Linked DNA regions of Homo sapiens. The protein of the gene in region 2 interacts with the protein of the main gene of each other region in a pairwise test. Each region holds a gene or a part of one and is shown on either strand. Other genes may lie near its edges.

What was found.
Region 1: the proteins of ENTREP1 (region 2) and PCNX3 interact in binary tests that used the Homo sapiens proteins (3 or more experiments, as listed by UniProt).
Region 3: the proteins of ENTREP1 (region 2) and EPN1 interact in binary tests that used the Homo sapiens proteins (3 or more experiments, as listed by UniProt).
Region 4: the proteins of ENTREP1 (region 2) and HECW2 interact in binary tests that used the Homo sapiens proteins (3 or more experiments, as listed by UniProt).

Annotation. Positions count from the first base shown.
Region 1 is NC_000011.10:65,617,816-65,626,584, forward strand, and holds part of PCNX3 (pecanex-like protein 3), read left to right. Parts: intron 1-124; coding exon 125-1,252; intron 1,253-1,721; coding exon 1,722-1,845; intron 1,846-1,938; coding exon 1,939-2,117; intron 2,118-2,523; coding exon 2,524-2,614; intron 2,615-3,015; coding exon 3,016-3,151; intron 3,152-4,390; coding exon of another isoform or gene 4,391-4,429; coding exon 4,430-4,551; intron 4,552-5,675; coding exon 5,676-5,829; intron 5,830-6,113; coding exon 6,114-6,146; intron 6,147-6,379; coding exon 6,380-6,551; intron 6,552-6,655; coding exon 6,656-6,766; intron 6,767-7,109; coding exon 7,110-7,201; intron 7,202-7,355; coding exon 7,356-7,465; intron 7,466-7,589; coding exon 7,590-7,695; intron 7,696-7,811; coding exon of another isoform or gene 7,812-7,836; coding exon 7,837-7,929; intron 7,930-8,088; coding exon 8,089-8,239; intron 8,240-8,769.
Region 2 is NC_000009.12:69,320,329-69,329,152, forward strand, and holds the start of ENTREP1 (endosomal transmembrane epsin interactor 1), read left to right. Parts: upstream 1-4,886; 5' UTR 4,887-4,981; coding exon 4,982-5,395; intron 5,396-8,824. UniProt on the Homo sapiens protein: Functions as an activator of the E3 ubiquitin protein ligase ITCH in the ubiquitination of the CXCL12-activated CXCR4 receptor. Thereby, triggers CXCR4 endocytosis and desensitization, negatively regulating the CXCL12/CXCR4 signaling pathway.
Region 3 is NC_000019.10:55,704,938-55,710,514, forward strand, and holds the end of EPN1 (epsin-1), read left to right. Parts: 3' UTR 1-3,974; coding exon of another isoform or gene 3,975-4,107; 3' UTR 4,108-4,596; downstream 4,597-5,577. Other genes in the region: NLRP9 (NACHT, LRR and PYD domains-containing protein 9), read right to left, coding at 3,975-4,107. UniProt on the Homo sapiens protein: Binds to membranes enriched in phosphatidylinositol 4,5-bisphosphate (PtdIns(4,5)P2). Modifies membrane curvature and facilitates the formation of clathrin-coated invaginations. Regulates receptor-mediated endocytosis.
Region 4 is NC_000002.12:196,582,651-196,591,419, reverse strand, and holds part of HECW2 (E3 ubiquitin-protein ligase HECW2), read left to right. Parts: intron 1-8,769. UniProt on the Homo sapiens protein: E3 ubiquitin-protein ligase that mediates ubiquitination of TP73. Acts to stabilize TP73 and enhance activation of transcription by TP73. Involved in the regulation of mitotic metaphase/anaphase transition.

The DNA.
Region 1 (8,769 bases), on a different chromosome or scaffold from region 2:
CCTCCCCAGTGTGCTGCTGTGGCTGGGCTCTCAGGGAAAGTACAGGGCATAAGACCTCCCTTAACCACTAGTTTGTTTTGCAGAAAACCCTTTTTTCATTTTCTGTTTCCCTTTATTTTGGCAGTTGGAGACCTTCCCCAGACGCCTCCAGGGGCTGTCCCAGACCCCTCTCTTGCCAGTACAGACTCTTCAGAGCCTTCTCCCCTGGCTGGAGATGGAGCGCCCTGGAGTGGGAGCAGCATGGCTGACACTCCCATGAGCCCCCTGCTGAAGGGGAGCCTCAGCCAGGAGCTGAGCAAGAGCTTCCTGACCCTGACCCAGCCTGACCGGGCCCTGGTGAGGACCAGCAGTCGACGGGAACAACGCAGGGGGGCAGGTGGCTATCAGCCCCTTGACCGGCGGGGCTCAGGGGAGCCCACGCCCCAGAAAGCCGGCTCCTCAGACTCCTGCTTCAGCGGCACTGACAGGGAGACATTGAGCAGCTTCAAGAGTGAGAAGACCAACTCCACCCATCTGGACAGCCCCCCAGGGGGGCCAGCCCCTGAGGGCAGCGACACAGACCCACCCTCTGAGGCTGAGCTGCCTGCCTCACCAGACGCCGGGGTCCCCTCAGATGACACGCTGCGTTCCTTTGACACGGTCATTGGAGCAGGGACGCCACCGGGCCTGGCTGAGCCGCTCCTGGTCGTGCGGCCCAAGGACTTGGCCCTGCTACGGCCTAGCAAACGGCAGCCACCCCTGCGAAGACACTCTCCACCTGGCCGTGCCCCTCGACGGCCCCTGCTTGAAGGTGGGGGCTTCTTTGAGGATGAAGACACTAGTGAGGGCAGTGAACTGAGCCCGGCCTCCAGTCTCCGATCGCAGCGCCGCTACAGTACTGACAGCTCCTCTTCTACTTCCTGCTACTCCCCTGAGAGCTCCCGGGGTGCAGCAGGGGGACCCCGGAAGCGGAGGGCCCCCCATGGGGCTGAGGAGGGAACTGCTGTGCCCCCCAAGCGGCCATATGGGACCCAGCGGACGCCTAGTACCGCCAGCGCTAAAACACATGCCCGTGTGCTGAGCATGGATGGGGCTGGGGGTGATGTTCTGAGGCCCCCACTGGCTGGCTGCAAGGCAGAGCTGGAGGCCCAGGTTGGGGTGGAGCAGGCTGCTAGTGAGCCTGTTGTGCTGCCTGCTGAGGCGCGAAGGGGACCCGCTGCCAACCAGCCCGGCTGGCGGGGGGAGCTGCAGGAGGAAGGTGCTGTGGGGGGAGGTGAGTGCTTGCTCTAGAGGCAGGGGCTGGGGGACGTGAGCTACGGGCTTGGGGTTGGGCAAAGGGCAGGTAAGAATGGACCTGGTCAGTGTCAGCTCAGCCTCGGTTGTAGGCAGCAGATGGACGTGGGCCTGGTGGTGATTGACATTGTCTGCCAAACCTCTTAGACATGGGGCTCAGCCACCTGGCTCCACATCCTTGATTAGCACCTGAGTCTCTGTCCCCTGAGGACTCTCATCATCCACACTCATCCTCCCACCACCAGTGGGGTGGGGCAGGGCCGATCAGTGTCATCCTTGTTTGCAAGTAAGGAAACTGAGCATGGGGCTGTGTGACCTGGCTGGGCCTCAGAGCCGGGGCGTGGTTGTACTAGGCCTTTAGCTCCCTGGCGGAACACCGTCCCCAACCTTACTCCCCCAGCCTTGTCTGAGCATCTGTCACTTACACTTGGGGGCCTCTCTCTGGGCAGCGGCCGAGGAGACTGGCAGGCGGGACCGCTCAAGCAGTGTGAGGCGGACCCAGGCCATTCGGAGACGCCACAATGCAGGCAGCAACCCCACCCCTCCAGCCTCTGTCATGGGCTCGCCGCCCAGGTGAGCACCTTGCCAGCTGTGCCGAGGGGCACCGGGGGCCGGGGAGGGCCCGCAAGCTCTAGCTGGCGCTGACCTGGGGCTGACCCTCTCCAGCAGCCTGCAGGAAGCTCAGCGGGGCCGGGCTGCCTCCCACTCCCGGGCGCTGACGCTGCCCTCTGCGCTGCATTTCGCCTCTTCACTGTTGCTCACCCGGGCCGGTGCCAATGTGCATGAGGCCTGCACCTTTGATGACACTTCTGAGGGTGCTGTGCACTATTTCTACGATGAGAGCGGTGAGCCTTTCCCAAGCCCGGTGGCCCAGTGCCTCCCCGCCTTCCCCCAACAGCCTGAGTCCTCCTAGCAGTGGTGCTCGCTCGGCCCTGTGGCAGGTACACTGCTAATGCTGCCAGACATCATCCTTGCAGCCTCTTTGAGGCACGGTGTCTCTGTCATCTTTTGCTCTGCTGATGAGGAAACAGAGGCTCAGCTTACAGTACAGGGGAGATCTAAAGCTAGGACAGGTGACTGCCGCGCCCAGGCTCTTGACCTGTAGGCCCTTTCCTCTCCAGAGGCTGGGCTGCCCTCTCAGAGGACACAGCACAAGGTTCTGCCTCATTTGATGGGTCTGGTGCCCACGTGAGCCGGGCCTTGGTGCTTCTGTCTCTGCCACGCTGCCTCATCTCCCATACCCTGCCCCAGGTGTGCGGCGTTCCTACACCTTTGGCCTGGCTGGAGGCGGCTACGAGAACCCTGTAGGGCAGCAAGGGGAGCAGACAGCTAATGGAGCCTGGTGAGTTCCCAAGCCTGGCCTCCCAAGCCATTGTCTTGGTGGCCTGCATCTCTGGGAAGTTCCCTGAGCCTGGAGTTTGCTCTCTTCCTGCTGGGCTTGGGCAGGGGCAGCTCAGATCTGCAGGGAGAGGATGGGGAGCAGCAAAGGACAGACCTCCTGGGGTCCCTGGCTCCATGACACTCCGGGCAGGAAGTTTCTAGGAAGCCCAGGGCACAGCCTCGACACTCGTGCCAGGGTCTGGGAGGGAGGCACTTCTGCCACCTGACCCCAGCACTTGTCCCTTGAGCCCTGGTTGGTCTCGGCACAGACAGCCCTACCTGCCTGGCCTTGGCCTCGGCCTCGACCCCACCCAGCCCCAGGGCTCGCCCGTGGGGGGATCCTGATGGCTGCTGTTCTCACAGGGACCGACACTCGCATTCCTCCAGCTTCCACTCGGCTGATGTCCCTGAGGCTACAGGCGGCCTGAACCTGCTGCAGCCGAGGCCTGTGGTTCTGCAGGGCATGCAGGTGCGCCGGGTGCCCCTGGAGATCCCGGAGGTGAGGAGCAGCCGGGGAAGGGCCGTGCCAGTGGGGCGTGACGGGGCGGGCAGATCACTGAGTCCGGCCTGCATAGAGAGCTTGCCCAGGTGCCCCAGGAGGGACGGGCAGTGCTGAGTGAGCGCTCCAGGGGCCCTACTGTGTCTGTCCTGATCTTTGATGTTGGCAGAGACTCTGGGTCTGAATGGCTGGAGAAGTCATTTATTTGCTTACTACGAATTCCTTTGGAGTACATTCCTAACTCTGGAGGGTCCCACAGTGAACAGGGGCCATGGGTGTTAATGATGATACTTGCGGAAGTGGCAGTGTTCTGTTAGCAAGCAGGGACCCTGTGATGACTGTGCTGCCCTGCATACACTGTGCACGTGTGGCTGCTGGGGTGCTCTCTGTTAACACTTCCTGTCTCAGTATACTCATTACCAGCGCTCTGTCACTCTTAAGAATATCACAGTTTGGACAGTAAATTTGTATACTTAATCTATTAACACCAGAAGCGCTAAAAATGCGTGAAACGCCATCTTAGAGCTTAAAGAATGATCATAAAAGGGTACCCGGCACCTGACCCTCAAGGCCACAGATAGGTTGGGCAGCCCCCAGAAGCTCCCACCTGCCCGCTTCTGGTTCATTTCTTCCTTGTAACCATGTGGGGTGGAAGCGTGGCCGGCGGCCGCCTCCAGAGGGAAGGGTTGCGTGCCTCTGGCTCGCCATTTTATCCTTGGATCCCAGGGCAGGGCCGGGCCCATAGCTGGGGCCCCACAAGTGCTTGTTGAGTGAAGGATACAACAAATGAGAGGTCAAGTCATGTGCCCAGGGCCTCAGGGCTGGCATTGGCACCTAGGCATGTCCTCAAGGCTGAGCCCTGCATGCACGCTCGGATGGGGTAGTCAGAGTGACAGTGACAGGCCCTGTCTGGGAGGAGGGTAGCATTTGTGCCAGGTCCCAAAGGACAAGTGGACTTCCTTGAGCTTCAGAAGAGGTGGGAGAGTTTGCCTGACTGGGGAAGACAGGCGTGGGAGCGGGTGACTCTAGGCAGCCCCTGCAGCCACTGGGCGACGTCCTGGGAACCTGGAGAGAGGAGGAGCCCTTTCAGATGAAGGGTTCTGGTGGGGTCCAGGGCCGCTAGACAGGGGCCTTTATGTGCTGATGGAAATGGTCAACCAGACCGGTGTGCTGAAGGGGGGTAACAGTAGACCATGTGGGGGGTGGCGGGGCTGACGGCCGCGGCTGTGGGGACTGCAGTTTGACCTGCTGGACCAGGACTCCCTGCACGAATCCCAGGAGCAGACACTGATGGAAGAAGCGCCACCCCGGGCCCAGCATAGTTACAAGTACTGGCTTCTCCCTGGCCGCTGGACCTCTGTGCGCTATGAGCGGCTTGCCCTGCTGGCTCTGCTGGACCGGTGAGTGTCCCGCAGCCTTGGCCCCCAATTCTTGGAAAGCCCCTGGACCTTGGCTCCCCAGACTCTGTACCTGTGGAGGCAGTCATGGCAGCAGAGAGCCTGACTCGGGGGAAGCTGAGGGCCTGTCGTTGGCTGGAGTCTGCAGTGGTGGTTTCTATGGTTCATTTGTGGTGTAAAGGGGTGGCCAAGTGGGTGGTGCTGTATTAAATCTGTTTATTCCAAAGTCCTGCTGAAAAAAACTTTTTTTGAGACGGAGTCTCTCTCTGTCGTCCAGGCTGGAGTGCAGTGGCATGATCTCGGCTCACTGCAAGCTCCGCCTCCCAGGTTCACGCCATTCTCCTGCCTCAGCCTCCTGAGTAGCTGGGACTACAGGTGCCCGCCACCACACCTGGCTAATTTTTGTATTTTTTTTTTTTTAGTAGAGATGGGGTTTCACAGTGTTAGCCAAGATGGTCTTGATCTCCTGACCTTGTGATCTGCCCGCCTCGGCCTCCCAAAGTGCTGGGATTACAGGCGTGAGCTACCGCGCCCGGCCATCCTATTCACTTTTTTTTTATTAGCTTCTGTTGATTTGAAAATCGAGTGCTGTAACCTAGAAAAGCTCACAGACCAGTTATCTCACTTTTCCCATTTCTCAGAGGGGACACAGAGTCCCAGAAAATCCAATAGAGAAGTCAGATGACTTCTACCCAGTGTAGAGAACTTGGGCCTAGAGCCCATGTGGCTTCCCGTCCATCTGGGTTTCTCTAGGCACAGGGACTGGGTGCTGGTCCTGTGTGCATAGCGTGGCACGCCCAAGGCAGCATGCACGATGTAGCCACGTGCAGTTAACTCAGTCTCAGCTGGGGATGGATGAATCCCGGGAGTAATGGCACCCTGAGCTCTCAGCCCTCAATGTCCAGAGCAGGCAAAGATTGGGAAGGAGAGAGCAATACAATGGTCGCTGGAGCAGGTGCTGCCGGGCCGCGTCGTCGCAAAGTTATAGGTGTTCACATCTTCAGAGGACAAGGGTCTGGCATGGGCACAGTCCCAGAGCTGGGCCTTTAGGGCAAGATCCATCTTCCCCACTGCCCCACTGGAAGGTGAGGCAAGACGGGCACGCCCTGACTAGGCTGTCCCTGCAGGACGCGGGGAGTGCTGGAGAACATCTTCGGCGTGGGCCTGAGCAGCCTTGTGGCCTTCCTGGGCTACCTGCTGCTGCTCAAGGGCTTCTTCACTGACATCTGGGTCTTCCAGTTCTGCCTGGTCATCGCCTCCTGCCAGTACTCCTTGCTGAAGGTCAGGCCGGGCTCTCTGTGTTTCCTTCCCCACCCGACTTTTCCCAAGATTGCCCTTCCCACAACTCCAGTTTTAAGGAGTATAAGCTGAAAGGTAGATAATTTGTCTAAGGTTCCCTAGAGCTGGCCAGCTCTTTTACAAGCAAGAAAACTGAGGCTCAGGACAGTTCGGGGGCCTGACCTGGTCACTCATAACTGCCTAGTGGTGGAGCTGAACAGGTCTGGGGCCTCTGACCATCCCGTGGGCATCGGCTCTAGTTGCCAACGTAGCCCTGTCTCTTCCAGAGCGTGCAGCCTGATGCGGCGTCCCCCATGCACGTGAGTACCCATGGAGCAGCGCCTCTGGCCAGGAGGCCCCGGGAGGGGCTGAGACCAGGTGGGGAGGAGGGTAGGGTATGGAGGGCTGGGGCTCCCTCACCACCCCCATCACCCCCACCTGGCCAGGCTCTCCAGCTTGGACCCAGGGCCAGGCCTGGGGCCCTTGAGTGTGTGCATGTGTCAGAGGTGTGGCCAGTCGGGGAGACCCAGCTCCTCATGGGCTGACCCCTCAGGGCCACAACTGGGTGATCGCGTACAGCCGTCCTGTCTACTTCTGCATCTGCTGTCTGCTCATCTGGCTGCTGGACGCCCTGGGCTCAGCTCAGCCCTTCCCACCTGTCTCCCTCTACGGCCTCACGCTCTTCTCTGCCTCCTTCTTCTTCTGTGCCCGAGACGTGGCCACTGGTGAGGCTGGGGCAGGGATGAGGTGGCCCAGGAGAGTGAGTCCCCGAGGGTGGGCCGCGGAAAGCCAGCAGGCTGACCAGGCCTTCGTGTCCCCTCCCTGCCAGTGTTCACCCTGTGCTTCCCCTTCGTCTTCCTCCTGGGCCTCCTGCCCCAGGTCAACACCTGCCTCATGTACCTGCTGGAGCAAATAGATATGCACGGCTTCGGGGGCACAGGTATGATGCCCACAGGTGGCTCAGGGATGGGGCCCGTGTGGAGGCCCAGGAGGGCCCTCGGATTGGGTCCTTGGCTCCACCCTTGCGGAACCTTCTCCTGCGTCTGTACTGCAGACTCAAGGTTTCTGCCTTCTCCCCTCTCCTTCCCTCCCCAGGCAAGTGGTTTATATCTGAGAATCTTGGAAGCTCTAAAGGCCGCTTGGGGCTTGGGGCAGCAGAGAACAATGGGCTGGGGGTGCCTTTCCAGGGAGGCCAGCCTCTGGGAGTTGAGGGGAAGCGCGGCTAGGGTTGAGGTGGGGTACCTGCAAGTGAGAGCTGGGCTGTACTTCTCCCTTCCACACAGCTGCCACCAGCCCGCTCACGGCAGTCTTCAGCCTCTCCCGCAGCCTGCTGGCTGCTGCCCTGCTCTACGGTTTCTGCCTTGGGGCCATCAAGGTAGGGGTGGCTTGCGAGGTGGGGGCATGCTGCAGTGCGTAAGGGTGGTTGGGGCGGGGCTGTGAACTGGGCTCAGCAGTGGCTTCTCACACGGGGGCAGCCCGGGCCCCATGCTTACCTCACCTCCCCTGACCAGCATGGATTCTCTCCGCAGACTCCGTGGCCAGAGCAGCACGTCCCTGTCCTCTTCTCAGTCTTCTGTGGCCTCCTGGTGGCACTGTCCTACCACCTGAGCCGGCAGAGCAGCGACCCCACCGTGCTCTGGTGGGTGTGCTCCGGGTCGTGTGTTTGTGTCTGCCCAGTAGGGGTTTGTGGTCTGTGCATGTGCCCGTGACTGGGGCCGGGGGGAAGGAGGGGCGGCCTCCTCCTGACTCTTCCTCACCCCCAGGTCTCTGATCCGGAGCAAGCTGTTCCCTGAGCTGGAGGAGCGCAGCTTGGAGACAGCCCGGGCCGAGCCCCCGGACCCCTTGCCGGACAAGATGCGCCAGTCGGTGGTGAGGGGGCGGGGGGTGGGGGTCTGTGGGGAGGTGGTGACAGGTCCTGGGGTTCCTGGGAGGGGCATGTCCAGCTTGGGCTGCTGGGCAGCTGAGTGTCTCTCCTGGCCGGGCAGCTGAATGTCTCTCCTGGCCCTGCAGCGTGAGGTCTTGCACTCCGACCTGGTGATGTGTGTGGTGATCGCCGTGCTCACCTTCGCCATCAGCGCCAGCACCGTCTTTATTGCCCTGAAGGTTTGTGTGGCATGGGCCGCTGCTGCCTCTCGCTGTCTTGGCGGGAGCCTGCTCAATCTGAGTGCCGTGGGCAGCCCCTCCCCGGCCTGTGCCAGGTGGCCCTCTGTGGTCCCTTGGCCTGCTCCCATCAGCTGAGTCTCTGGCCTCTCCCTCCTGCAGTCGGTGCTGGGTTTCGTGTTGTACGCACTGGCTGGGGCCGTGGGCTTCTTCACACATTACCTGCTGCCACAACTCCGCAAACAGCTGCCCTGGTTCTGCCTGTCACAGCCCGTGCTGAAGCCGCTGGAGTACAGCCAGTATGAAGTGCGCGGTGAGTGCCCACCCCTGATGGCCAGGCCTGGGCAGTGGCTCGGGCTGCAGCCTGGCTGGTGGGAGCTGTGGTCCTCTCGGCTCAGGAGTGCCAGCAGGGGGCACTCGCTGCCCACACTACCCTTTCTGCTCCCTCCCTGCCCTCTGTGTCCGTGTTGCCCGGCTGCGCTCTCCACCGACTCTTCTCCTCGTGCCCTGCTGTGCCCTTCCCTTGCCTGTGTTGCCCTGGTCCTGCCCTCCTTCCTGTCTGTGAGAAGACGGAAGAATTAGAACCCCAGGGCCCTGAAGGGATCTCTTGTCCAGAATTAAACACTGATCACCAGTGGACCAGAGCTGCCTGGAGCACATCTTCACTGGGCTGCATAATGGTTTTTAAAAAATCCTGGAGCCTCTATTTTAGCATCTCGATTTGAGATATGAAGATCCATGTTTCTTGAGTTTTTCTTAAACGACAGAAGATTTTGCTTCCCAGACTAGCATCCCTCTGTGGCTACAACCAGCCTGAACCGAGGGGTCTGCCCTTTAGAAGGG
Region 2 (8,824 bases):
TCTTTCTTTCTTTCTTTTATTCTTCCTCTCTCTCTTAATTAAAAAAAGCCTCACACAGCCCTTTCTCTGCAAAGTGAAATGTTATAATTGCTCTTACCACTCATCGATTTCCTCAGGGAAAAACCTAGGACCATGGAACCTGAGGCCTTAAAGTTTAAAATAGTGAGTTTCGGGTTTTGTCGGGGAATTTTGAGTCTATAAATTTATTCCACCCCCAAATTTACCTGCTTTTCTTAGTCCTTGTTCTCTTGCTGGTCATCTGAGAAATCATGGCGCTGAGAATAGCTGAATTTCAAAATCGCAGGCCTGGGGGTATCCAAATGATTGCATAGCCCAACCTCAGGCAGATGATACTCACAAACCCGTATCTTACAGATGAAGCAGTTGAGGCCAGGAAGCTCCTGACTGGGTCAAGGGCACAGAGTGGAGTGGGGGCTAGAACCCAGCAACTCGTTTCTCCTACGGTACCTTTCCCATTAGAATCCAGTAGTCTAACTCCTTCTGTGCATAAAGATCACCTGTGCAGTGAAGCTCCGCTGGGGGCCAGCAAAGCCCTCCCACCAACATATTTGCATGTATGTTTGCTTTCAAGTCAAATCCCCTACCTTCCTCTTCCATATAAGCATTCCCATATAAAAATTCTGGAGTCTAAATAGTACCCTCTACTAATGTTTCTTTGCATTTGTTACAATGCAGGTTCCAGGCCTTCAGTCCAGAGTATCTGATCCCGCAGGTGTGGGGAGAAGTGAATTAACTTGACATTCCCCTTCCCCGCCCTGGCGTGATCCTGTGGTCTTTGGAGCACACTTTGAGAAGCTGCTCCAGCCAGCATATTAACTGAGACTTCTAGAATCCACTATGCCTTAATTCAGAGAAGCACTTCCTTTTTTGTAAAATATAAGACCTGGAGGATCTTGCCAGGGAACAGGTTTTAAAGAGTTTCTTCAGCAGCTCTCACTCCGATGTGGAACAGCCTCCTTTAATTAGCTGACAGATGGGGGTCTTCTGAGAAGTGTGGAAGGAACTGAGGAGTTTATTTAAAGGGTCCTTGGGAGGCTGAGGTGGGCAGATCACGAGGTCAGGAGTTCGAGACCAGCCTGCCCAACATGGTGAAACCCTGTTGCTACTACAAATACAAATACAAAAATTAGCCGAGTGTGGTGGTGTGCACCTGTAATCCCAGCTATAAAGGAGGCTGAGGCAGAAGAATTGCTTGAGCCTGGGAGGCTGGGAGCCAGGCTCCTGGGAGCCTGGAGGTTGCGGTGAGCTGAGATCAAGTCACTGCACTCCAGCCTGGGCAAAAGAGAGAGACTCTGTCTCAAAAAAGAAAAAAAAAAGGTGTCCAAGAAACCTGGGCAAAGAGCCTGAACTCCTCAGTGGAGGAGGCTCCTAGTGCAAGGAGTGGAAAATGAGGGACAGGGAGGGGAAGCATTGGTAGAAGGTGTACGGAACCTTCTTGGAGTTGAGCTTTGATCTTGAGGAAAACTGGCAGCTGGGTTCCACCAAACAACACACTCCAGCTATTGTTTCCTTGAACTTTGGCCTACATTAATGAAGAATCTGGGGCAAATTTTTCACAGGTTCTTCCACACTTTATTTTTAAATTTTTTGATAACTTTATTGAGATATAATTCACATACCGTACATACAATTCACCCATTAAAGTGTACAATTCACTGGTTTTTAGTACATTCACAGAGTTGTACAATCATCAGTACAATCAATTTTAGAACATTTTCACCACCTTAAAAAGAACCCACATATCCTTTAGCCATCATCCCCTCGCAATCTCCCCATTTCCCCAGCCCTAAGCAGCCGGTAAGCTACTTTCTGTCTCTACAAATTTCTCTATTCTAGACAATTTAGATAAATGGAATCATATCATATGTGGTCATTTGTGACTGGCTTTTTTCACTTAGCATAATGTCTACAAAATTTTTAATTATTGTGGATACATAATAGTTGTACATATTATGGGGTACATATGATATTTTGAAACTTAGTATAATGTTTTTAAGGTTTCTACATGTAGCATAGATGAGCACCTCATTCCTTTTTACTGACAAATATACTCCACTGGCTGCATATTCCATGTTTTGTTAATCCGTTCATCCAGTTGATTGACACTTGGATTGCTTCCACCTTTTGGCTGTTGTGAATAATGCTGCTACTTGTGCACTGGTTTTTGTGTGAATATGTTCATTTCTTTTGGGTATATACCTAGGAGTGGAATAAGTGGGTCAAATGACAACAAACACTATACTTGACTTCCTGAGAAATTGCCAGACTGTTTTCAGAAGTCTTCAGTTTTTTTTTTTTTTTTTATTAAGACAAACGGAAATCAATGGCTCTGAATTATCCTATAAGAGCTTAGTTACATACAGGTTGTTCAGGTCTAACTAAAGACTTAATGTAAGCAGGGTTTGGGAGATGCAAAGAATCAAGCTTGGTTTACAAAAATACCAAGCCCAAATACTTGATATTTTTATTGGCATAATTTTAAAGGTTGGGGTAGTGTTACATGGATTTGTGTTTATAACCAGAAAAAGAAACTCAGTTATAAATGTGGCCAACAACAACAACAAATGACTGTACAACAACCCTTAATTAGTAGCTTTGGAAAAGTTTTAGTCACCTTATAAAATGAGTAAAGCCTTTAAGATGATAAAATCATCCACGGATTTCAGTTATTTTTGCTATCATCTGTTTCTGCATGGGGAAAAAGGCTTTAAAAATTTTAAGAATAAAGTATTTGGAAATACTTTACAGTATTTAAGTATATAATATACACAGAGATGCACACAAATCATAACTGTAACTCCATGAATTTTCACAAAATGAACCTTACTCATGTAATTAGTACCCACATCAAGAAAGAAATAGTCACCAGCACCCCTTGAAACCCTCTTTCCAGTCATAATCATGTCCCTCCTCAAGGACCAGTGGATATCCTGACTTCTAACAGCAACATTCTTAGACACAAATAATACATTTTTTGTAGTAAGTTTCAGGTGTCAAGAACTGGCCAATGAAATAGATTTGTTTAGCTGAGAGAATTTCTTAAGACTCAGTCAGACTTACTATATTGCATGGTGTAATACATTGTTAAAAATTAAATACTGTTAAGCTTGTATATAAAATAGAGTATAACCTCAGCCCCAAGAAGCTTTTCATTTAACATCAGCAGCAATTTAAGAGCATATACTGTATGGCATTTTTAAAAACTGCATGAAGCCGGGCGCGGTGGCTCACGCCTGTAATCCCAGCACTTTGGGAGGCCGAGGCGGGCGGATCACGAGGTCAAGAGATCCAGACCATCCTGGCCAACATGGTGAAACCCCGTCTCTATTAAAAAATATAAAAATTAGCTGGGTGTGGTGGCGGGCACCTGTAGTCCCAGCTACTCTGGAGGCTGAGGCAGGAGAATCGCTTGAACCCGGGAGGCGGAGGTTGCAGTGAGCCGAGATCACGCCATTGCACTCCAGCCTGGGCAACAGAGCGAGACACCATCTCAAACAAAACAAAACAAAACAAAAAACCCCTGCATGAATCAACAGACTTTAAACACTTATTTTGAAAGACATTTCCCTTTTCCTCCAGAATTTGAATTTATTCATGGGAGCAGTCTGTAAAGGAAGTCCTAGGCACCATTAAAGACAAGTGCTTTAATAATTTAAGAAGTGTGCATGTAAACTTGGGCACATTGACAGTATATTACATTGGGTTAAAGTGTAACGACCAATATAAATCCAGCTTCCACAAGCAGAGCATAAAAACTGACACATACTTTTCTTGGTTTATTGGGTAGGAGGATGTTAAATACCTTATGGTAAGATAAGCTTTCTAATACTGGAACTGACTAACTGCAAAGAACACTGCTCTGGTTCTTATCAGGAAAAAAAGTCCATTATAATCATTTTAGGCACGAAACTTTCTACGCATTAGAATTCTTCCGAGGTGAAAAGTATATTATTAAGGGAATTCATTTTGCAAAGAGGAATCTTTTTTTTTTTTTTTTTTTTTTTTTTGCTCTAAAGATTTTTCATAAATTACCAGAGTAGTTTAGGATTTTATTAGGATATTTCCTCGGAAGTTTGGGGGTTCCGTGTTCTATCAGGTGATGCCTAATAGATGCCTGATATAGCTCATAAGTCAATGAGAGGACAGAGCGTTACACTTGCCATGCACTCCGGGCTGCCCCGGGTACTTTCTTTACGGATGCTGGATGCTTCCAAGGTAACCCAGTCCTTTCATTCCCGCTCCTACCGAGATGCCGGGAAAGCACTCCCGCGCCGATGCGAGGTAGGCACGTCCTGCGCCCTGTGAGCGGTAACTGCGCTCGGCGTCGTCCTTCCCGAAGTCCTTGGCTTACACCTCTTCCCATCGAGTCGCCCCAAAGCCCCTCCTCCAGGCATCCCCCTCCTTGGGCAAAAGTTTAAGGGCGGGCCCCCTTCTCACTAAAGCGCGCCAGGGCCTCTCTCGTGGCTGGACAGAGAAGGCTCCTCGCTCTTCTCTAGCCCCAGCTCGGCGGGTGGGGACAGACGCTGAGACTCTCGGTGGCCGGCGCTGACGTGTCCTGGCCGTGAGGTGCCTCCCACCTCGAGGGACTTACTTAAATATTTGGGGCAGGGCACCCTCCCAGGACCCCAGGAAGCCGGCGCAGGTTCGGCGGGGACCCTGAGGCTGTGGCGCACTTGCCCCGGCACAGCGCGAGCACGGAGTGCGCGTGGGTGAGAGTGAGGGTGCGCCCAGGGCCAGCGGGAGGCGGACCCGCCAGGCGGCAGGTGGGTGCGGCCGGCTGGAGCCAGGGCAGCGGCAGCGGCGGCAGCAAGTGGTTGGGCCGTGCGCATTTCCTTCCCTCCCCCTCGGCCTCGGAGCCCGTCTGCAGTGCCCAGTGTGCTGCGCCTTCGGCTCGGCTCCGCTCCGCGTCCTCTGCCCGCCGCAGCCGGCCGCACCCGGCCGCACCCTTCCCCGTCCGTCCATGTCCCTGCCCGTGGTGCTCCCGGGCTCCTGCTGCCCCGTGGCTGGGCTTTCGGGTGGGCCGCAGGCCGGGGGCCCGGGCGCCGCTGCCGCCGCCGCTCAGGAGCCGCCGCTGCCCCCGCTGCGGCCGCGCTGGCCCCGGGGCGCGCTGCAGCCCCCGTCGCGGCCTCGCTGCGCGGCCACCGCTGCTGCCGGGGTGCTGGCCGCGCCGCCGGCGCTCTCCTCCCGCCGGGCAGTCGCCGCCGCTGCCGCCGCGGCCCCGGGCTCCGCGCTGCTGCCCGCCCGCCCGCTGCTGTCACTTGGGCTGCTTCAGCTGATCTTGGGCTGCTGCATGGTGGCGCTCAGCTTCGGGGCGCTGTCGCTGAGCAGCTCCCCGCAGGTGAAGAACTCGTGCCCGTTCTGGGCCGGCTCCTCGGTGAGTACCGCGCGCGCGCCCCGTTCGCCCGGTCATCCCGGTGATAGGGGGCTCTGGTCGTTCCTCTCCATTGCCCCTTTGTTGGCCTCCAGGGCTGCAGTTGGGGGAGCCTCACGCCACCTGAAGTTTTTGGAGGCTGGAGAAAAATGTTCCGCGACGGTCGAGTTCAGGGGTGAATTGGGTTGCACCTGGGTAGTGTCTGTTGCGCGCAGGCTGAAGAATTTTATTTTCCCTGTCAAGCTAATAGAATTAAAGACACCCAGCTCTTTGGGAGATTGGAAGGACAGGGTGTGGGTGGCAGGAAAGTGGGAGGAAAATGATTAAACTTCTTTTGGTTATTGAGTATTTGCTGCACTGACAACGTCTGTGCTGGGAGGGCAGGGATTTTGATCATTTTTGTTCACTGATGTATCAAGAATGCCTGGCACATAGTAGGTGTATTTGTGAGATGGGACAGTTTGACTGGGGCACATCGCTTGTTTTATTCTGCATTAAGACACACGTAAATGTGAAATGTGTAGGGTGGCTCGACCCCCAGACGAGTTCAGGAGGTAATGAGGGGGTGTGTGTGAACTGGCGCTTGTACCTGGTCATTAAAGGAAGGCCTTAACCCCACTGGGTTCCTGGAGCCATGCAGGCTGCTGTGCAGAATTCAGTTTGTGAGAACCGGGACCTGTCATTATGGATGAGCTGGCCAAAAGTCCTGGAGTGCCCAGCAGCTAGCTAGAGATGTCTGCTCTACAGGACCCACTCCTCCCTCCTCCAACCGGGAACGCTGAGCCTGGGGCCAAAGAGTGCCCAACTTCAGAGAAAAGCTGCTGCCAGCCAGTATCTATGGACACCGGGTGGCCACTCCCCCCTGCCTCCTAACAATCTCACAATTTCCAAGGCATCCAACCCCTTGACGTTTTCTGGGTGTTGAGAGACTTGGAAACACATCTTTGTGGAATGACTATGGAAGATGAGCACAGTAAATAACCTCTCTTTATATCTTTTTTTTTTAATTTTTAATTTTTATTTTTAAGGGACAGAGTTTCCCCATGTTGCCCAGGCTGGTTTCCAACTCCTGAGCTCAAGCGATCCTCCTGCCTCGGCCTCCCAAAGTGTGGGGATTAGAGGCATGAGCCACCACAGCCGACCGTAAATAACCTTTCTATGAACTCACTGTGTAAATCTGAAAGTCTAGCAATGCTGCTAGGTTTTAGTAAGATGTATAATCAGTGTATGTCCTGAATGGTAAGAACGGCTTTTGCAGTTTCACACATACTGCAATTCAAGACCAAATTGAAAAAAAAAAAAAAGGACTCGAAGAACTAATTGAACCCAAAGTAATTGTTTGAATAAGAACATTAAGAACGTTAGGTTCCTTGAGACTCGCCTGAAATTGTATACTTCATCCAGTGTCAGTTTGCTTTCCTTTTGAAATACTTTCATGTTGAATGAACTTATTGGGGTACGTGCTGGACTGTGGTGAGTGAAAGCCATGATTTGTGCCTCATGAAAAAACGCCACCCTGGTGGCTCTGCCTGTGGGCTCTGCCACTGGCCTCTATGAGTGTTCAGGAAAACTACAGAAGGATGGATATTCCAGACAAGGTAGGAATTAGACCCGTTATGCCACCTATTCTGTTTGTCTGACTAAGTCCAGCCAAATGGTGGGTGCATTTCATTTCTCTAAATACCACGGGCCAGTAATGATCTTGCATATATTTTTAGGAATTTGCTCTTTATAAAATCATAATCTATTGTCTTCTCAAACATAGCTAGTTTAGGATTCTTAAAAACTATTTTTTGTCTTCTAAAATTAAAAGCTGAAATCAGTTTACTATTGTGAATCATTTCAGAGGTAAATGCACTTAGATATCGGTCAAGCCACAGTTGAATTTGATGAAGTACCAAAAGAAAAGAAAAGAAAAAAAAAGGCCTTCCACCAGAAGGTGAAGGTTAATACTCCTGGTCTGCTGGCTGGGTATGTCCTTGTCTCCAGGTCTGGGCACACCAGAGGAGAGAAAGAAATCAGTGATTTGGAACTGACAAGTTCTCTGCTATATGTCTTTCCCCATTCTTCCCCATACTCTCCAAACACAGGTCTATATGCAACTCTATAACTGTTGGCTATTCCTACTTTTTGTGACTTGTTCCTGAGATTGACCTCAGAATTTGCAAAGTGACAACAGAAGCAGTAGATACTGTATTTATAGAACAATTAAATACAAATTTAAGAGGATGGCTTTAGGCACCATGACTCTCTTGGTGCTTTAGGGGAAAAAAGCCTTGTATCACATGTTTTGAATTTATGCATGTGACAGAGGTTGTTTTTTAAAAACCTCGTGTTATGGAAAAGTTTACATTTATGCAGTATACGATGAACCCACATATACCTTTCACCCAGCTTCAACAATGGTTTCATCTGCACCCCCTTCCTGGGCTCTGCTGCTGGCCTTGTGTCTTCTGATAAACTTCAGAAGGATGAATATTCCAAGCAGGGTGGGAATTAGATCCTTCGTGCTCCCTAGTCCATTTGTGAGATTAAATTCTCTTATTGTTTGGAAGCAAATCTCAGGTGTCACATTTCATCTGTATATATTCCAATGTGTGTATTTTTATCACAAGAAAATATAACCAGCATAGGATTGAGTGGGCAGTCCGAAGAACCATTCCCTTCAATTTTAAATCTTTTATTATAAAAATTTAAAAACTCAACAAATGTAGAAAGAAGGGTGTAATGATCCCGCATTTTACCCTTCACCCAGTAGCTATCAACACATGGCCACTTTATACCTAACGCTGCTCCCCCTTCCTAACACCCCTGGATTATTTTAAGGCAAATTCCAGGTATCACAACTTCAGCCATTAGTATTTTAGTATGTACTTATAAAAGAAATGGGCTTGATAGGACATTGTAACTAATTCAAAGACAGCTAAACTAAGGTTTCTATAAAAAAAAAAGTTGGAAGATTATGAGTTGAGAACTGCAGAATTAAAAAAGAACACAGCTTTGACATATATTCACATGCCATACAACTTACCCATTTAGCATTTAAAGTGTACTGGTCAATGGTTTTTAGTAAATTCACAGTTGTGCAACTATCACCACAATTTTAGAAAATGTTTATCAACCCTAAAGTTTTGAGTAGTTACTCCTCATTCTCCACCACCCCCACCCCTAGCCACCCACTGATTAACCCACTTTCAGTCTCTGTAGATATGTCTGTTCTGGATATTTCATATACAAGGGATCATATAATATGTGGTCTTTTATGATTGGTTTCTTTCACTTAGCATGTTTTCAAGCTTCATCCATGCTGCGGCAAGTCTCAGTACTTCATTCCTATTTTATTGTATGGATATGCCATGTTTATTTATTCACTCACAAGTTTTATTGGCATATGAAGCTAGGTAGTTGAATGGAAGTGCCAACTTATGTCTA
Region 3 (5,577 bases), on a different chromosome or scaffold from region 2:
ATGCTGTTCTCATCCACTTCCCAAGCATCTCTGGCTGAATGCTGTTCTACACATGCACGTGGGAGGCACCAGGGAGCCCAGAAGAAATGAAAAGCCTGGGCAGACTCGCAGTTCTGCCACACAGTGAATGTGCTACTCAAGCCACTCAGCCTGGGCTGCAGAGGTTGGAAGCCTCACTGGCCTGAGGTTTCTGAGTAAGCTCTGACCCAATCATTGACTATTAAACTTCAGAGGTCCATGGAGACCTCTTAGGAGTCTTTGAAGGAACTTAGCATAGATACCGATAGCTGCTGACTGCAGGGAGATGGGGAGATATGTTTTGTAAACCTGTCCAGGCAACTTTTTTGCCTACGGAAACACACAAAAACGAAAACAAACCAATGAAAAAAACCTCTCAGAACGATACAGAATCCAGAGCCACTACAACACATTTCATGAAGTGGCGTGAGCCTGTAATTCCAGCAGTTTGGGAGGCCGGGGCGAATGGATGACTTGAGGTCAGGAGTTCGAGACCAGCCTGGCCAACATGACAAAATCACCATCTCTACTAAAAATACAAAAATTAGTCATGCATAGTGGCATGCACCTGTAGTCCCAGCTACTCGGGATGCTGAGATGGGAGAATCGTTTGAGCCCGGGAGGTGGAGGTTGCAGTGAGCCGAGATCGCACCATTGCACTCCAGCATGGACAACAGAGCAAGACCCTTTCTTAGAAAAAAGAAAAGTATCCCCGAACATTATCAGAGTCAAGTTAATAAAGGCCAAAGGTAGAGAAAATCTTGAAAGTATCGAGAAAATGACATGTCAATCATAAGGTCAGGTTCTTCAACAGTCATACTGACATTGTGGCTGGAATATTTGTTGTTGTGGGATATATATATATATATATATTTAGAGTGTTGTGGGATATATATATATATTTAGAGACAAGGTCTTGCTCTATCACTAAAGCTGCATTGCAGTGTGTGATCATAGCTCACCATGGGATTCTTGATTTTCAGTGAGTATAAAGTGTAAGACAAAATAAGTCTTAGTTCAGGTATGCTGGATGGGAAGCCAGAGGTCTGCATAGCAGTTACAAAGAAGGCCTTATTATCTGGAAGAAAAGGGACCATAGAATGTCCATTGGTTGGGGAACAACCCAGCTTTAGTTTTTCCAGATTCTCTGCATGTGCAGGTTTATGAGACTGGAGAACTTTGATTTCTTCTTCCTCCTCCTCCTCTCTTTTCTTCTTCCTCTTCCTCCTTTTTCTCCTCCTTTCTTCCTTTATTTTTCTTTCTTCCTTTCCTCCTCTTTCTTCTCCTTTTTCCTCCTCTTTTCTTCCTTTCTTCTCTTTTTCTTCTTCTTTTTTTTTTTTTTTTAAAAGACCGTGTTTCGCTCTGTCACCCAGGCTGGAATGCAGTGGCGTACTGTTTTAGAAAAGTGAAAGAGGGCCGGGCGTGGTGGCTCATGTCTGAAATCCTAGCACTTTGGGAGGCTGAGGCGGGTGGATCACCTGAGGTTGGGAGTTCGAGACCAGCCTGGCCGACATGGCAAAACCCTGTCTCTACTAAAAATACAAAAATTAGCCGGGCATGATGGCAGATGCCTGTAATCTCAGCTCCTCAGTAGGCTAAGGCGGGAGAATCGCTTGAACCCAGAGGCAGAGGCTGCAGTGAGCCAAGATTGCAGCATTGCAGGAAAGAGAGAAAAAGGAGGGAAGGGGAAGGAAAAGGAAAGAAAGAAAAGAGGGGAAGGGAAGGGAGAGATTTAAAAAACAATAGTAAAGAGAGATTTAAAAAACAATAGTAAAGAGAGATTAAAAAAAAAAAGTAAATGGGCCAGGTGCGATGGCTTGTGCCTGTAATCCCAGCAGTTTGAGAGGCTGAAGTGGGAGGATCACTTGAAGCCAGGAGTACCAGACCAGCCTGGGAAACATAGTGAGACCCCGTCTATACTAAAAAATATTTAAATGGGCTGAGCGCGGTGGCTCAGGCCTGTAATCCCAGCACTTTGGGAGGCCGAGGCAGGCGGATTACCTCAGGTCAGGAGTTTGAGACCAGCCTGACCAACATGGCAAAACCCCATCTCTACTAAAAATACCAAAACAAAAACTAGCAGGGCATGGTGGCGCATGCCTGAAATCCCAGCTACTCAGGTGGCTGAGACAGGAGAATCACTTGAACCCAGGAGACGGAGGCTGCAGTGAGCCGAGATTGTGCCACTGCACTCCAGCCTGGGCGAGCAACAGAGTGAGGCTGTCTCTCAAAAAAAAAAAAAAAGGAACGGTAGTGTGCACCTGTGGTCCCAGCTACACAGGAGGCTGAGGCAGGAGCATCACTTGAACCCAGGAGTTCAAGGCTGCAGTGAGCTATGATGGCACCACTGCCCTCCAGACTGAGCCAAAAAGCAGACCCTGACTCTAAAACAAAAGAAAGAACAAATAACAAATGAAAATAAATACCCAAAAACCAGTCAAATGTGAAACTGGTGTCAGGGGTATGTTCTCCATGTTGAGCCCCTTCTGTGGAATATGACAGTGTCTCTATTTCGGGTAAAGGAAAGACCAAAATAACTTTCCAAGATGAAAAGCTAAGAGTGCTGATCTCATCACAGACATAGCCAGCTCTTCAGTTCAGACCACCTGGAAACCCTCCCCATGTCTTTTCAGAACAATGTCCTAAGAACCATAGGGGAAGTGGCCATAAAAACCATCTTTCCTTTGCAGACTGGGGTGGGGACTCTGGCCAATGCCATTCTGTTCTTCCATAATATCTTTCCCATCTTGACTGAGCATCAAATGAGGCCCACACACAAGATTCTCACCCACATGGCCGTGGCAAACTCCTTGGTTCTTCTTTCCACTGGAATCCCCCACACAATGGTGTCTTTTGTCCTATGGAAACCCTTGTCCAGTCTTGAGTGTAAACTCGTGTTTACAGGTCTTAAAGTCCTGACCTGGTGATCCGCCCGCGTGGACCTCCCAAAGTGCTGGAATTACAGGCGTGAGCCACCACTCCTGGCCTATGCCAGCATTCTTTAAAGTTGTGGGAAAAGGCCAAAAGCAAATAGAAAATTGGGCAAAAAAGTTCATAATTGCTTAAACATATGGAAAACCTGGAAGTAAAATTAAGCAAGTAAGTGCGAGCACTCTACATTGAAGATTATAGAAAATTCAGCCTCCCAAATATCCAAAGAATCCAGGAGTGTGCCAAGAGATCCAAGAGTAGGTCCACAATTTCTCATTCTCAGGAGAATCTGAGATTATATTTCAATCTAATGATAACTGATTATATAATCCAATTTCTGCATCATCTTGCTTTTATGTTTTGTAATAAAAATTTTAGACCAGGCCAATAAGGCATCAGCAATTTACCGTAGGGAACTAGGGAATGTTTAATTATGACAATGAAGTGTTTAATATTGTGTTTTGAAATATAAACAGTGTAGATATATTTGAATAATACTGAATTTTTAGAAAAATCTATTGGGGTGTCATATATAAAAGGATAAGTAGAGATTTGGAAATGCTTTTTTATTGGACAAGAAAATTGATCAAATCGAAATCTGGACAAACTAGAAAGTCTGGATGCTAGCAATACAATCTATAGACACATTCTAGCATCACTTCTGTGTCAGAAGTATCCGGATTGTGGTGCCTACAAATGCATGCTCCTACACACCAAGACATCCATTAAGAAAATAAAGCCATGCTTTCCAGAGCGTTTAGCACTTGTTTAACGTACTTGTGCTTCTAAATATCACAAGGCAGGATGGGATTTCTAAAGACAAGGGGATATAGGACCGAGGCAAAGACAATCAGCATGTACACTGAATCACACTCCATAATCATATTGCTAGAACACTTAGGGAGTACCTCTGAAATCACAGCCCTGCTGCCATGATGTGCAATTACAGGATAGAGGTGCCAGGTGAAGGTCCCACTGTGGCCAAGGAAAGCCTTTGTGAGACGACTACTTCAGGGTGTTCCCCATCAGAGGAGCACACCCCTGATCTTGTATTCCTCGTCAATCCAAGGTCCATGTGAAATGGTCAGATGGGGAATTTTTTCTTCCACAGACATCAGGATCTTCTGAGTTTCTTCATCAAAGCCAGATTTGTGCAGCCTGGGAAAATAGAAATAAAGTTTTTTTTTTTGTTTTTCATTTTTACACAGTATTGCCTCTCTACATTCTGATGTCTACCTCTCCTCTCCTCTTTATTCTTTCCTAGAAATCACTGGGAGAATTGTACTGAATTTGAAAAACAAGCATGAATCTTTCCTATAGGATAGGAAGCCTCTGATTTATACCATAAAGTGAAATTTCATATACAGGATGTATCAATTAAGATTTAATTCAAAAAAGATGAATTTAAGTTAAAAAGAAAAACACAGGATAACTTCCATTCATCTGATGTTCATATGCCCTGGCACATCTATTGCTTCTTATAATGTGCTTGCTTAAAAAAAAAAAACATGAGCTTTTCTCAGAGACACTAATATAATGAATTCATGTACCCATCACCAACTTCTACAATTACCAATATTCAGCCTCTTCCATTTACAACCTGCCCATTTTCTAAGAAATAATTAAAGCACATGCTACACCCATAAATATGTCAAACGTTCTTGTCTGTTTTCGCTATTTTCAGTTCCTTTCGTGTCATTGTCCCCTGAACCCACCTCAACAAAGCTGGTTTTTGTAGTCACCAATAACATCAATTTGTTAAATACATTCTATCCTACTTACCCAGTTAGCATTGAATACAGTTAATTACACTTTCTTGTTTATTTTTTCCCTTAGCTTACTGGACACGACTTCCTCCTGGCTTCTACTCCCTCAACAGCTATCGTTCTTGCTTTATACGTTGAATCTCTGTCTCTTTATAACTTCTAAATGTTCTCAGCATCAGGAAAATATAAAAAATAAGTTCACAAATAATTGGTAAGACTGGAACATAGGCCTTCCTGAAAGAATATAACTAACATTTGCAATTCTCTTCTCCCCTCTCCCGTGTCCTTCCTTCTTGCCAGGTGTTCATAGTTATATGCCTTTTTATCTCCAATTATAAAAAGAAGTTGAGGAGGATTAGCAGGTCACAAAATTTCGTAGACATTTAGACACAGGAGAAGTAGGAGTTTATCTTAAATCTTCAGAGGTAGGGAAGATGGCTAAGTTTCCTTTCAGCTACAGCGACACTATGAGAAAGTTACCCAGAAATAACTGCTCTGAATGCTTGCTACTGTGGAGATGACATGTTTTGGGTGTGGGGATGGTGGTTGAAGAGAAGGGAGACATTATTATTATTATTTTATAATGCAGGCCTTAAGTACCTGGCCTGTCCCTATGGGGACTGGGTCTCTGTCTCCTCTCTGAATTCATTTTTCCCTTTCTCTGCTATACAGCTCCCCGGGACTCCCTTCTGGCCCTGCAGGGTACAAGGCCTGGCCCCATCTCAGGGCCTTTATGTTTTGCTGTGCCCCCTTCACTTGGGGTCCTCCCTAGACATTCGTGATATGGTTTGAATCTGTGTCCCCACCCAAATCTCATATTTAATTGTAATCCCCAATGTTGGAGGTGGGGCCTGGTGGGAGG
Region 4 (8,769 bases), on a different chromosome or scaffold from region 2:
GCTTCTGGGGGAAAATCAGTTGCACCTTTCTTAGCTCTTGTATATAAATGGCCCCTTGGACTCAAACCGTCTTCTGGCTGGAAAGACTTTAGTCTTCATTAGTTTGAATCCAGTTTCCTTCACCATCTCCGTGACAGGTGATTTCCAAATCCCCACCATTTGGCCGCAGACTCTGAGGTTTGGGCACCATGATGATTTCCCAGTCTAAGACATTCGCTTCACCATCGCCTCTATCACGGTATTGGGCAACATTTGGCAATGAATCTTTATGAATGGCTGTGGTGTCGGTAAAGAAATCAAAATCATTCTGAACATTTGAGATAAACCAGCTGGAGCTTTTCTGCGCCTACCACTGTTGTGGATTATCTATGTGTTGTGTAGATTGCAACCAGATCACAAAGCTAGTTTTCCCTCTTTATGAATGTGAAGGAAAATATTCCAGTAAATTAACATTTGCCAGCCACAGGACTAAATTTAATGAAGATTATGAGCAATGTTTGACCCCTCTGAACAGGAGACAAAAAATAAAAGTAAGCACTGGTTCTGTTTCACTTGGGCAATGTGATCTTGGGAGAAAAACCTATATTTTCTTACTCTTTTAAAAGGCTTTTGCAACACTGATTTCAGCCAAAGGCAAAGAAACCAAGGTTGTTACCTGTAGTTGAGGACAGATGCTTTGGCGTTTTCTCCTAGATGAATGTGTTTTGCAGGAGAGGTGGCTTTTGGGATCTTCCCAGTTTTAATATGTGCCTACACATCAATGAAATGATCTTGCATTCAAAATGCTTGTTAAGTCTATATGGTTGGTATCTGTGTAACCTCTAACCAGGTGGCTTTCTCTGTTGTGAAGTGTTCCTTTAAGAGAAACCAGAGGCTTCTCGCCTGGGGCTTGCTGTGGGCCTGGCCTGGATCCACATTCTTGTGCATTGCTGACTACTTTCTTGGGAAAAACTGGAACCAGTTTTGCTTGGTGTGTTGGATAGGGAATGGCAGCATTGGGTGAAAACCTTTCCAGCTCTGTTATCAAAAGCCAGGCCTGGCCTGAAAGAGGGAGGACTATGTTTGAAGTTTGATTGATTTAACAGAGGCAGAGGTTGCTTCATTACACACAGGATGCCTTTTGTATCAGGATATGAATGAGAGATTAGAAAGGTGACGAGATGCCCTGCTTTGCTTGTGACAGTGCCAGTTTACTCCTGTTGGTTTATCTTAATTATCAAAAGCACCCCCTTTCACATGTAAAAGTGTCCTGGTTTGGGTGATAATTATCTGGTCACCCTAGATATTAAGGAATCCTGAATTTTTTTCATCACCCCTCTTCCGACACCAGATTTTGAGTCTTGCCTTATTTCAGTCTTTTATTTATTAAATGCAAAGCTAGAAAATCAGAAAAATTTAAACCTGAAAAATATATAAGAAAAAATGAAATAGGAGGAAGGAAGATAGGAGAATGAGATAATTGCTTGTCATCTATTTACACACATAGTGAATAAAATAGTTTTATTCTTAAGTTACTAAGCATCTGCCGTGGCTGTAAGCCCATATTATTATTGTCTTCAAGCACAATATGAATTAACACCTGTCCATATATCTAGAGCTGACACTAATTGGGACAAATCCTTTGATTTGGGAGAGCAGTTTCTACAAAACCTGTTTGCAGACCTAGTGGTTACCATGGCTCTTAGAGGTAGGAATGCAAGTTTCAAGATCTAGTGTCTGGTCCAGATCTTGGATATTTACTGAGATTCCAGAACACAAGTGTTGTTGTGAAGACTTGATTCCACATTCTCTTAGTTTCCAAGCTCTCAGGGCCATGAGGATAATAGGAGGGCTTTTGTTTTCTGTACTCCCTTGTGTCTCCAGTGTTTGGTTTGGGTCTCAGCTTTTCATACAGAGGGGTCGCAGAGAGGGAGAACTGTTGTGTCTGTTCACCACATGAAAATTCTCTTGGGGGTTTGAGATTGTGCAGGTGACCTGGCAAGGGTTTGGATTCTTTACCCAACTTAGATATATGAAGTTTGTGGCATTTGCTTCTGCAGTAGTTGCTATGCTCCTTTACCAAAGAATTGTGTGTTTGTAACACAGCTCACTTACTATGTTGGCCAGTGGATGTTATAATTAATTATGGCTGTCACCTTTCCCAAACTCACTCCACTGAAGTCCTCAAAAGCTTGGTCAGCATGTCTAAATAAGAAGAAATTTATTTATTTATTTATTTTTTGAGACAGGGTCTCACTCCGTTGCCCAGACTGGAGTGCAGTGGTGCAATCTTGGCTCACCGCATCCTCCGCCTCCTGGGTTTAAGCGATTCTCATGCCTCCGTCTCCCAAGTAGCTGGGATTACAGGCACGCACCACTACCATCAGCAAATTTTTGTGTTTTTAGTAGAGACAGGATTTCACCATGTTGGCCAGGCTGGTCTTGAACTCCTGACAAATGATCCACCCTCCTCGGCCTCCCAAAGTGTTGGGATTACAGGTGTGAGCCACCGTGACCGGCCTATGTATCTTTTTTATAAGTAGGATGACTATGTAATTTAAAAAAATCCAGACAAGGACACTTTTGAGAGTAAAATATGGTACTAACTGGAAGGGGCATTAGATCAACAAGTATAAACTGAGACTGTGCCAGGAAAACTAGGATTTATGGCTGTTCTAACTATGACTCAAGTGATAAGCTTGTATATGTATTATATCCATATGATGAGAAATGTCCTTAGCTTCTTCTAGTCTTGTTCAACGTATATGTGTGTGTGTGTGTATGCAATGTATGTATAGATAAACATTGATAATGTATCTATGGATATGTGAATTGTAGGTTTGAAATAAACCACTTAAGAAGTCCTGGTAATTGGAAATTTATGCCCTTCCTTATCTCTTTCATTGGTTGACTTTTTAACTAAACTCTTTGGATCTAGCCTCTCCAAACTTTAAATCATCTCCTGACCTTGTCTATTTTAATACCATTCTATTGATATAATTCTTTTGCTTAAAAACCTCTGATGGCTTATCATTTTCTTTTTAATTCTCAAAGTAAGATCCATAGGCAGTTTGGTGGTTAGAAGGGAAAAGCAATGAAAAAATTTAATTCATTCATCCATTCATTTATTTGTTCATTCAAGTAATATGTATTGAGCTCCATCTGCGGGTTAGTATCTGATCTAGGTGCTGGGAATATATCAATGAATAAAACAAAGATCTCTGACCTTGTAGAGTTTTCATTCTGTTGGGGGCAGGCAGGTGGGAGGTGGGAGACAGATAATAAACCAAATAACTAAATTATATATGATGCTAGAAGGAGATGAGTGCTTTGGAAGAAAGAGAAAGTAGGACAGGGTAAGTGTGGTTGAGTAGGCTTCATGGAGAAAGAGACCTTAAGCAAAGAGTTAACGGAAGGTAAGAGAAGTTGCTTAATACAAATACCTGAGGGATAGAGTTGCAGGATGGCCAGTGCAAAGGCCCTGAGAAAAGAATGTGTTTGGATATGTTCAAAGATTTGCAAGATCAGCATGATGGGGTGGAATGACAAGGGGGAAGTCAGAAATGAGACCAGAAGGGTGGTGTGGGTGTTGCAAAGCCTGTAGGGCCTTGAGATAGGCCATTTAATTATGATTTCAGCAGACATCCCCTTATGTTCTTAAAACTTATTATAATATTTAAGATTGTATTTGTGCTGCAAAGACTGCACTGGTGAGTGCGTATAGCTTACATTTTGTTAATGGTCCACTTCATGTTTGTTAATATAATTTTTATATCATTTACTTATTTTTTATTTGTTAAAAGAATATTTTTTGTTTTTGCTGTTCTTAAATTGTATTCCCATTTCACAAAACTAGATAAGTGGTTCAAAAGTAGTTCATTGAAGTGTAAAAATAGTGATGAAAATAGTACTGTAAATGCTACATTTCAGAATACCATAAACATACTTAGAGAACTGAATCCCACTGCATATAAAATGGGAATATGTATGTATAGAGACAAGGGAATCTCTGAGAGTGACAATTTCAGAACAGTAGCTGAAATTGAAAAGTGCAAATGGAAATATGACAATGACTATCTCAAAACTATTTTTTATTGGACTTGCTATCCCCATTAGGACCAAATGAATCCGTAATCGTTGCCTGTTATGAAACTTTGTCCAATAGTGGCATGAAGCCATGGATGTTTTTGTGTCATTTTCGAACAAAGCACAGTGGCTTCTCTGTTATACTATTGAAGTTTTCTAGGACAGGCACACAATAATGCTTTCCTTTATAAAATTAATGTATTATATGGCTAAAGGTAGGTAAGAGATTATAATTCTATTAGCATCATTAAAGGATCCTTGTAGCAAAATAAGTATGAGTCATATTATTGAAGAGACACTTGGAAAATCAGCTGGAAAGTTAAAGACAAACATTATCCTTAGAGAGAAACCAGAAGTTATTGACAAAACTCCTTTGTCAAATAACATGGTTGGCTGTGGCATAATATCAGTGGAGTGGAGTGTGGAAGAGCGATTACTATCAAGTGCACGCTAGCAGATATTTCACTTTATGGTTGGATGAAACCACCGATGTCATGCAGAGAATGAATCAGCTTTTGGCATTTGTTCAGAAATGAGTGCTCGGTGATGCTTTTGTTCATTTGTCACTGAAAACTTGTGCTATAGGAAGAGTTTTTTTTTGTTTTTTTTTTTTTGGTTAACCATTATTCATGAGAGTGGAAAAGTTGCTCGGGACAGAACTGACAGGGTACTGGGCTCAGGTACAGATAAGGTGATGGCTTCATGAAGAAAAGGAGTTGTACTTAGAAAGAAGCCAATCCACATGCTACCCACTTCATGGAGAAGACGTAATACCCTCTGATCTTGAGGAAATACAAAAAGAAACAGTGGAAACTATGGATTCAACCAAACTGTGGCCCCTGTGTCTGTGAGTTTGCTGTGCAAAGTGATGGGCAGTGAGTGTAAGACTGCTTCCCCAAGCTGACATATGCTAGCTGCATAGTGGAAAGGTGCTCGTGTAATATTTTATCTGTGGAGTAAGATATCTTTGGAGCAAGAAAAACATTTCCTTATGACAGTGATTAGAAATGATTTGTGTTATATCAAGTGGTATACCTAAGTCATATGCTTAGCCCGTGGTGAACTGTGGCAAGGACAGAGAGGGAAGGGAGAATTATTAACAAATAAAACAATATGCCACAATCTTAGACTATGAAATTTTTTATTAGGGAGTTGGAAGTTCACATTGACTGTAAATTAAGGAAGTGATATTTTCAGTAATAGACAGCCATTTATATCATAAGCATAGTATCTCTCAGTGACCTGCTAGAAGAATAAGAGCTCAAAGTAATAGAACTTAGACCCAGTAAGTTTTGATGGGGAGTAGACACGAGTGTATATTTGGTATTTGAGAGCATGTAGAGAACCATGGCAGGAGGGACCCAGACTTTTAGGATTTTGCATGAAGATATTGGGTGGCAGGGAGTACAGGCTGAAGGAGGTAGAGAAAACTGTCAGATTTCTCTGACAGTTGGATATGATCTTTCTTAAGTTTTTGCCTTAGGCTTCACTTCATTTTATCCAAATGGACTTCATACTCTAAGGTTTTCAGGACATAATCTTTATTGCCATTGGCATAATCTAGAAAAAATGAATGATTTCTTCTGGTCTTATAGTGGTATTGGATACCCTCCGTATAGGCCCCCACCCCTTCCTCCCTCCATTTTTTCCTCTCTTCTCTTTCTCCTTCTCCTCCTTTGTTCTCTCCTTCTTTAAGCCATTGAGTTGGCATCTCTAAGCTACACGAGCTAGAAGAGCTCATCTTCTGTATCACTGTTATCTAGGCAGATATATGTGCTATTCAGGGAACAAGGGAAAGGAGCCCCTAGGGAAGGGAAGTTCTGTACCTTGCTCAACTAACTCATCCTAATGTCCGATATCCAGCTATAGCATGCATTTAAATGTAAACCCCATTCTTTAATAAAGACTCATTTCCTTTTTCCCCTCTTTGGACTTTTAATAAAGATGGAATCATTGTCTTTTGTTTAATAAGTCATCCATTGTGATGGCCCTTATTTAATACTAGGACAAAAGTCATTCATGCATTATTCATTGAACCTTATATGCCAGGCTCTATGCTAAGTAATGGGTATAAAAGAGGTTAATAATCAGACATGGCTCTGTCCAGATAAGACAGAATCTAATGGAAAACAGGCCACACATATATGAATAAATAAATAAGTATATAATTGCAAAACAAGGCAAAAATATTAATGTTTGTTAAATCTGGGCGTTGGTATGTATGGTATACCTCAGTAATATACTTAGGCCACAGTGAATCATGGCAAAGACAAACAAGGAAGGGAAAATTATTAGCAAGTAAAACCATATGCCACAATCTTAGACTATGAATTTTTTTTATTAGAGAGTTAGATGTCCACATTGACCATAAATTAAGGAAGTAATATTTGGTATATGGGCTACTGTTATATTAACTTCTTAACAATATGAACTTCTAAATGTATATTTTAAATATTTCATAAGCAACAAATGAAAAAACCTAGTTGGAAGTACATTAAGTGCTTTGTCGAGGTGGGCTTTGGCAGAGAATGTTGTGTAACTGAGACTTCCTTTAGATGGAGTGCTCAGGGAAAACCTGAAGTGTAATTCATCACTTGCCTATATAAGAAGGATGAGGATAATTTGGAAAGGGTTCAGGGAAGAGTAACAAAGATGATTGATGACAGAGTTGAAAATAGCCCTATGAGAACAGTCTTAGAGAACTGGGGATGCTAAGCAGCAATGGAATGCTTAACCTAATGCAGTGATTTAGGTTTTTTTTTTTTTAATTTATAGGGAGTTTTACACATCCACATTCTCTTCACTTGTCTGCCATGGTCAACAGCAGGCAAGACAAGTGATTCAATTTAGAATTATGGGTTGGAGAAGAATCAGAATTTTGTTCTGCACTTGAGGAAAAATTGGAAAGGATCTGAGAGGTAAACTAGTTTAGCCTTTCTGTAAAGAAATATCTCTTCAGTGTTTTTAACAGGTGGTCATCAGGTTTTTAGGAGATAGTTTCCATGCTTCCTCCACTAAAAATAGGGTGATGGTGAGTGGGACACTCTAGTTTACTTTAATTAGACAGGTCTTCTTCCTGTCCCATAAATACCCTAGACTCATCTCCACCTCAGTACTTTTACCACAGGAAGCAACTCCCACCTGGAATGCCCACCACTTCTACTTACTCTTTCAGGCCCCAGGTCTCCATTGCCCTTCTGTATGCAATTTAAAAACAGTGGTTTTTGTCATTTTTCCCACCTCATCCTTCTGAAGAATATGCCATTCCTGGAATTCAGTGTAGTTTCCCTTGTCAGTGATTGACAGTAAGAGTAAGGGTGGAGTAAGTATCTTATAGGAGGAGTTGGGAGACAGTGTGTTTAGCCTTCCACCCAGATGCTGATATGCTACCCTCTTGGGAATCACTCGTTTGTAGCAATTAAAATCTTAATCATCTGCTGTTTTAGGTGGTACACTAGTTATTGTTTTCCATTAGTCTTCTTGCCACCTAGATTTTAAGCACTCTAAATATATGGAAACTTGGCAGATGCCCCTGTGTAATGCCCAGTATTGATCACATAGTGAATATTCAATAACCAATGCCTAATGGCTAAAGGAACCATCTATTTCTTCTTCATGGACCATTATGAAGGGTTGTTATTTATATAGATCAGATATTAATTGACACAGGATACTAAAAGATTAACATTTTGGACTTTTAAAATGTCAGAAAGTCAAGTCTTGGAGGCCTAGTTCATTCAGATAACTCTCATCTCAGAACTTTCTTCCTTCGTAAGTCTTCTAACTCCTTGCTATTCAAAGTGTGGTCCACAGTCCAGGCAGCATCAGGATCACCAGGGAGCTTGTTGGAAATGCAGAATCTCAGGCACCACACCAGACTTATTGAATTTGAATCTGCATTTTTAAAAGATCCTCACATATGTTGGATGCACAGTAAAGTTTGAGAAACATCATTTTAAATCATCAGAACTCAGAAATTTAGGAGTATTTATCTTCAAAGAGAAGTAAGTGTGGAAATGAAGATTTCATCAGTCTGTGGATGAGATCCTCAGTGCCTTCTGCCATGTGATCTGGAATTTTGCTACTTCATATAGGAGCTTGCCAGGCCAGAAGATACCTCTGCAGGAGTTCCCTGGGGTAGTTCAGGTATGTAGGTGATATTTAGGATTGGTGATTACAGGAAGAAGAAGCAGTTGTTGGCATGAGAAACTAGGAGAGGTTGTCATAAGTAGAGGAGCATGGCAATACGACCCTAAACCAAGAGATCACTTTATGATTGGACACAACTTCTAACTCCCTGAACATGGACTTGTCTCAAACTCCAATACCTCCAGAGCCAACAGGTCACAAATGAAACCAGCTGGATGTGTTGTGCATGGTAGCCTTGTGGAGTGGTGAGGATCATGGAGAGACACACTTCATCAAAAGGAAAGGCAGTGTCCCCACTTGGCTCACCTTATTGTTGCCACATGGGAATTTGGACCCACCATGGCCAAATCTTCAGATTTTTCAAGTGAAGCTAAACTTAATTACATGTAAGTTTGTATGTAAAACATCTCTTGGGTGTAATTTGTTGGTTAAGTATACTGTTTTCAGAACAGCTCATGCCAAACGAAATTCACGTGCTGTTGTGGTGTCTGTGTCTGGTTCGCAGTACCTGTTCTGGATCAACTGAATGTATGAGGTGGTTTTGATACCTGGCTT